Linked DNA regions of Homo sapiens. The protein of the gene in region 2 purifies or fractionates together with the protein of the main gene of each other region. This does not show direct contact. Each region holds a gene or a part of one and is shown on either strand. Other genes may lie near its edges. The genes, in order: ZNF423 and RARG.

Region 1 (3,819 bases), on a different chromosome or scaffold from region 2:
CTGAATGAGCATGGAGCCCTGGAAGCCCAGCAGGCTGCTGGCATCCCATACATGAGACCCTTCCCCTGAGAAAGGCAGGACATGGGGCTGCTGGAGGGACTGGGGATTTGAGCTATTCACTGTGGCCCCAGGAGGTGGAACCAGGACCAACACAGAGAGGAGACTGCAGCTTCATGTGTGAAATTCAAGCTAAAAAGCCACGGATGAGGCCGAGGCAGGCGGATTACCTGAGGTTAGGAGTTCGAGACCAGCCTGGCCAACATGGTGAAACTCCATCTCTAATAAAAACACAAAAATTAGCCAGGCCTGGTGGCACATGCCTGTAATCCCAGCTACTCGGGAGGCTGAGGCAGGAATTGCTTGAGCCTGGGAGGTGGGGGCTGCAATGAGCCAAGATCGTGCCACTGCACTCCAGCCTGGCTGACAGAGCAAGACTCTGTCTCAAAAAAAAAAAAAAAAAAAAAAGGCATAGATATGCCACAGAGGTAGTGAGCGCCCTGCGAGTGAAAGTGTGTACGTCCAGGCTGGATGAAACCAAGGTTGCCAGAAACACACCCAAAGAAGTGTAAATGAAGTGAGCTCCAAGGTTCCTTTTCAACCTGTGTTTTTCAGGATTAGGAGAGGCTCAAAGGCAAAAACAGTGAATCTTCCCAAAATGTGTGTCTGGCCCCTGGCTGGCCAGCGTCTCCCTAAGGGGCACAAGGCATCTGCAGGGGCTGTCCTGGGCACTGAGAACCCGTGCACTGCTTGCTGCTCCCCAGAGACCCCAGCACTCTCTGTGGCCTCCACCCCAGAGACAGAAGCCTGCCTCCTCTTTCCATCTCCCCACTTCAGGGCACCTGCTTCTCCTCCCTCTCCCTCTCCCTGGGGACCCTCAGGAGCTGATGATTGTCTCTCCTCTCTCCAAGTTCAAAACTGCAGCCACAGGGGGTGAGGGACAAAGCCATATCTCTTGTTCAGGAACCAAAAATATACTCTATGTTGCTGGTGGCTCCAAGGTTCTGCAGCCTCCAGGCCAAGGAGGTCCCCCTGCCCAGTCTTCCAGCCTGAATGTGTAGTCATACCAACCCAGCTGCCCTCTCCAGCCATGCCCACCTCCCTAACTAAGCCCAGATGGTCATCACTCTGCCTTCAGGCAGGTAAAATTCAGTGCAACAGGAGTTAGGTGAACAGTATGTTTTATTTAATTAGGATCAACAGAAGAGATAAACCTCACAGCAGGATAGGGAATGACAACACTGCAAAAAATAATTCATGCCCAGGTAACGAAAGGGCAAATTTCAATTACAGAGAAAACAGGGGGAGAAAAAGTTTCCAAGCACCTCCAAGGAGCGAGGCAGTGAAGAGTTTGCAAAGCCTAGACCTTTGGGCCCAAGATGGTCTAGAAAGCAAGGCAATCAAGTGGACAAAACAGCCATTCTTCTCTCTCCTTGTCATAGACAAACTGGCCTAAGTGTGCAGGACTGGGTAGGCCGAGGGAGCTGAGTCCTGGCAGGCAGGCATAGGGGCCACAAGGGATCTGCCAGGGCCACTGGGCAAGCTCGCAACCCACCAGGCACAGTCTCAAAAGAATGCTGTCCCCACAAGGAGACAAAACAAATATTCTAATCCTAATAATGGTCATCAGATCACTCAGCAAGTCCTTATTAGCACCCCACCTGCCCTTTCCCCCAGCCCTGATGGAACCCTAGTCTTATGCCCTGCCCTAGCCTTGGACAATCCAATCTCACCTCTTACACTAGAACAAGGCAAAGAACATACCCCCCCGCCCCCCGCCGAGAGAATGGCCTCATCTTCTAAGCCTCTGTTTCTCATTCTTACCCTGGAAATGGGAGGCTGGCCTGGATGACCTCCTCTGGGGTAGTGGGCTGCAGATCCCTAATCCACCATCATTTGGGTGCCAACTATAAATGAAAAATTCATGGTGGTGACAGCCCGACAACAATGTGTATGTACTTAATGCCTCTGAAAAATGGTTAAGATGGGCCATGCAAGGTGCCTCATGCCTGTAATCCCAGCATTTTGGGAGGTCGAGGCAGGAGGATTCCCTGAAGCCTGGCATTCAAGACCAGCCTGGGCAGCATAGACCCATCTCTACAAATAATAAAATTAAGAAATTAGCCTGTAGTTCTAGCTACTCGGGAGACTGAGGTGAGAGGACTGCTTGAGCCCAGGAGTTCAAGGCTGCAGTGAACTACGATCACGTCACTGCACTCCAGCCTGGGGGACAGAGCAAGATCCTGTCTGTAAAAAAAGGAAAAAAAAATGGTTAAGATGGTAAATTTTAAGTTACGTATATTTTATCAAAATTGCTTAAAAGCAGGAGTTGGGGGATGAAGAGATCTAAGCCCCTCCTCAGACCAGCCAGGTGAGCATCTGCAGGACCTGGGCCCAGGAATATGCAATTTAACCAGCTTTATTGTAGGTGACGGTGATAGGCATGACAGCTGGGGATCCACTCATCTGTATGAAGCCACCCTTTCCCCAAACAAAGGCTCCCCAGCATAATGCTTGAATTACCTCAAAAAATACTTCTTCTGCAAATGAATATTCAAAACAGTGAGTTCTCCAACTTTCATAGCACAAGCAAATCTTTTTCTGTATGGGTTCTCCCTCCAAAACAAACCCTCGAGAAGCACAAGCATAACCCAGGCCTCTGTCTCTCTCCCGGCCCCTGGTCCCTGCTCCAAAGGTGACATCAGCCCCAGCACCCCCATTATCTGGGAGAGGGAAATTGCTGTTAAATTAGCACATCCACAGAGCCCCATTTTATATCCCAATTCAGAAGATGACATGAACATCTGCTTTCACTTCAAGACATTAATTTTCAATTATTGGAGAAAAACAAAATTAGTCCTGACAAATTGCTGGCGAATACAGGCTCTTGTCTGGTGGTTCATAATAATAACTTCGGGGGCCCACAATTAGTGTCTCGGACGGAGTTTCCTGATGGATCCCTGTCATCTGGAGGCAGTTGGCAGCAGGGCAGCACCTCGCACCGCAGTGTATCAGGCAGGAGGATGCTCCAACAACCCGCAGCTCGAAGGTCACTGCTTCTTGGATGACCAGGTTTAGAGAACTAAGGAATTAGGGTTTCCTCTTTCTGGGGAAGGCAGGGAGGGACAGAAGATAGGGGGCAGGCATCTAAAAAATATCCACCTGAACCATATTCAGCTTTGAATATTTTTCAAGGTTTTCTCCTCCTGTTCAGTAGCAAGATTTTGCACACTTAGACGGGAATGCAAATCACTCCTGAGTCCTTAGTGGGCACACTGGGATCACCTGATAGGATCGCCTTATGATTGGAGTTTGCCATCTGCAAAGGGAGAAGGACAGATGACATGATTTTCTTATGAGACCCCTTCTACCCTTCTACATGACGTCATTCAGGATCCCAAATCCAGAACTCAATGGCTCCAGCCTCTGAGATACAAATGCCTATAAATCTTCTGTAAGAAAAAACTGTTTGCCAGGGTCCCATCGACCCAGAACCTGGTTCAGCCCAGGTTGTAGTCTCCACAAAAAAAAGAAAGAAAGAAAACTCTGAATTTGCCAACCTCAATGACCCCAAATCCAGAGAACAACCCACTTGATAAGAGATTATCAACACTGCAATCTCATTTGATGGGTTTTTATGTATCTTGGCTGCTTTAGTCACTATATCAATAAGAAGCCACTGAAATGTGAATGAGTTGAAGAATTCGGAGATAATGATGTGGTTGCCTTTGAATTTGACTTGTCACAATTGAAACCAGAGTGTGTTTGCCTAGCTAGGATGTTCAGACTCTTGAGGGGGGTGAGGCAAGAGGGAGGGGAGGT
Region 2 (2,889 bases):
AGACAGCGTTACAAGGTACGTGAAGAATAGCCCAGTTTACAAACAAGATTAAAAAAGTAAAGCAATTTGCCCAAGACTTTGTCTCTAAATATATATATACACACACACACACACACACACACACACACACACACACACACATACTTGGAATTGTGCTGAATTAAAAATTCAATTCTGCAGTTGCAGTAGTCACATTTCAGATGCTTAATAGCCACATGTGGCTAATGACTATTGTATTCCCATCATTGCAGAAAGTTCTACTGGACAGTACTGGTTTAGAAGCAATTTGCCCAAAGTCTCCCACTACTATGTGGCAGAGCTAGGATTCCAGTGTAGATTGCCTGGTTCTCAACTACTCTGTTCTTGTCTCTGTGTGTCCTCCTGTCCGACCTGGGAGACCAACAGCCCTGGGAAGACAGAGAGGGGACACCCACTCATGACTCACCCTTAGTGCTGATGCCCCGGAGGTCGGTGATTTTCATTAGCATCCTTGGGAACATGTAGGGCTGGCTGGGCCGCCGGCGCCGGGCGTACAGCCTCAGGGCTTCCAGCAGTGGCTCCTGCAGCTTGTCCACTTTTTCGGGCTCCTCCAGGTCCATGCGGTCTATGGGGACAAGTATACTGGAGTGAGAGGGGAAGGAAGAGATGGGGAAGACACAGTGACAGATGGCTGATCACCAACCGGCGTTTTGGGAAGCCTGTACAGGGTTTCAGAACTCTCTGGATGGGGCCAGGTGCAAGAATTACCAGCAGAAGAGACCACTGGGTCCTCCACGCCCCCTCCCAGACAGATTCCGCATGGAGTGGTGGGAAAGGAGACTGAGCACTGAGCAGACGCCAGGGGGCGCCCCCGCACCTCCGCAGATGAGGCAGATGGCGCTGAGCAGCCCTGTCTCGGTGTCATCCATCTCCAGGGGCAGGAGCTGCCCAGCAAAGGCAAAGACAAGGTCTGTGAGGGGCCCGAAGCCGGCATTGTGCATCTGGGTCCGGTTCAGGGTCAGCCCGTCGGAGAAGGTCATGGTGTCCTGCTCTGGGGTGTACCTTGTGCAGATACGCAGCATCTGGAGGTGGGGGGTGGAGGAGGGTTAGTGCTGTTTCTGGGGGATGGGGAAAAGAGGGAATGAGTGGAAAGTGAGGAGGTTAGGTCCCCAGTGAGTGCAACCTGAAGCAGGCATGGAGAAGGCAGAGGTGGAGGATCTGAGGCTTGGCAGGGGTAGTCCCGGGAAGTCAGGAGGAGACAGGGCATCCAAAAGTCTAGGATCAGGTCATAGGGGCAGAGGCTAAGACGAAAAGAGAGCTGAGGAGTCCCACATGTGTGGCAGGGGGTGCAGGGTAAGGAAATCTTTGCATGGATCAAGGAATTGTTGAGGGTCCCATATGTGGGTCGGGCTGTGGCAGGACCCACAGGGCCTAACTTACCAGGATATCTAGGCAGGCAGCTTTGAGCAGAGTGATCTGGTCAGCAATGCTGAGCCCTGTAAAGCCAGGCAACCGCTTGGCAAACTCCACGATCTTGATGATGCACTTGGTAGCCAGCTCACTGAACTTGTCCCACAGCCCCAGATCCAGCTGCACGCGGTGGTCTGCACTGGAGTTCTGCAGAGGGGAGGGGTAGAAGGTTGGAAGGCAAGCTAAGGCCCACCTCTGGGGGCTGTCTTCTCTCTACCAATATCCCAAGCTCTCTCCTCTGCATTCTGATGCCCTCCTTGTCCTCAGCACCAGTCGATGATAGCCTCCAACACAACCCAGCCCCATTCCCCAAAGTGAAGAGTGCCCTGCCCTCACTGGGCTCTGCCCATTCCTCACCGTGGTATACTTGCCCAGCTGGCAGAGCGAGGGGAAAGTCTCCTGATGGGCTTTGCTGACCTTGGTGATGAGCTCTTCTAACTGAGGGCTCAGCTCATAGCTGTCAGGTGACCCTTCTTCCTTCACCTCTTTCTTCTTCTTGTTCCGGTCATTTCGCACAGCTTGTGGGTGGAGGCGCAAGGAGAGGGTCAGGACCCTCAGAGCCTCCCTTTGGGTGTCCTCTCTCACCCTAATTTAATATGCTCAGTCCTTATCATGAATATCTATTCTCTGGCACTGTAATTACTGCCTCAGTTTCCCTATCACCTATAATAGCTCCTATTCCCAGGCTGGTTCTCCCCAGCCCCACCCAGGGCCTGCAGCCCCTGCTCCTTCCCCAGGCCATTCGGCTCCATCCTGTCCTTCCTGTCACCCTGCAGGAGCTGGGGGAGGGGGGGCAGGATATGCAGGCGGCAGGATATCCACTTATAGCCTTGGCAGCACAATGGGGGCGAGGGGGGGGTGGAGAGGAGGAGCCACCCCATATCCATCTCTGGCTCAGTCCAGGGGAGGGAAAGGGACTGGCAAGCCCACTGGCTTCATTTCCCCCATGAAACAGGGGGAATGTGAGACCCTACTTATTCACCCATTCAGAGGAAGAGTCAAGCTCCCTGAGAGGGAGAATGGGAAATGGTGGGGCCTCCTGGTTGAATGGAGCTAATCAAATAAGACTGGCCTGGGAGAAGGCAGCACCCCAGGGCAGGCCAAGTCTCAGAGGTCAGGGAAGTGGGAGTGGCCAGAGGAAAGAGGGCCACAGCCATAGGGTAGGACCGAAGTGCTCCTGCCCAAGCCAAGGATGGCAGCCTACCTTCCTTGGACATGCCCACTTCGAAGCACTTCTGTAGCCGGCAGTACTGGCAGCGATTCCTGGTCACCTTGTTGATGATACAGTTTTTGTCGCGGTGACACGTGTACACCATGTTCTTCTGGATGCTTCGGCGAAAGAAGCCCTGGAGTTGAGGGAAAGAGAGAGGGCCTCTGAAGCACAATGCTGGGAGTACCAGCCTCTCACTGGCCTTGCAGGTTGCCCCAAGCCTGACCTAA

The links.
Region 1: the proteins of RARG (region 2) and ZNF423 purify together in Homo sapiens (co-immunoprecipitation; one study listed by IntAct). This does not show direct contact.

Annotation. Positions count from the first base shown.
Region 1 is NC_000016.10:49,845,857-49,849,675, forward strand, and holds part of ZNF423 (zinc finger protein 423), read right to left. Parts: intron 1-3,819. UniProt on the Homo sapiens protein: Transcription factor that can both act as an activator or a repressor depending on the context. Plays a central role in BMP signaling and olfactory neurogenesis. Associates with SMADs in response to BMP2 leading to activate transcription of BMP target genes.
Region 2 is NC_000012.12:53,212,640-53,215,528, forward strand, and holds part of RARG (retinoic acid receptor gamma), read right to left. Parts: intron 2,796-2,889; coding exon 2,654-2,795; intron 1,968-2,653; coding exon 1,807-1,967; intron 1,597-1,806; coding exon 1,420-1,596; intron 1,062-1,419; coding exon 857-1,061; intron 605-856; coding exon 446-604; intron 1-445.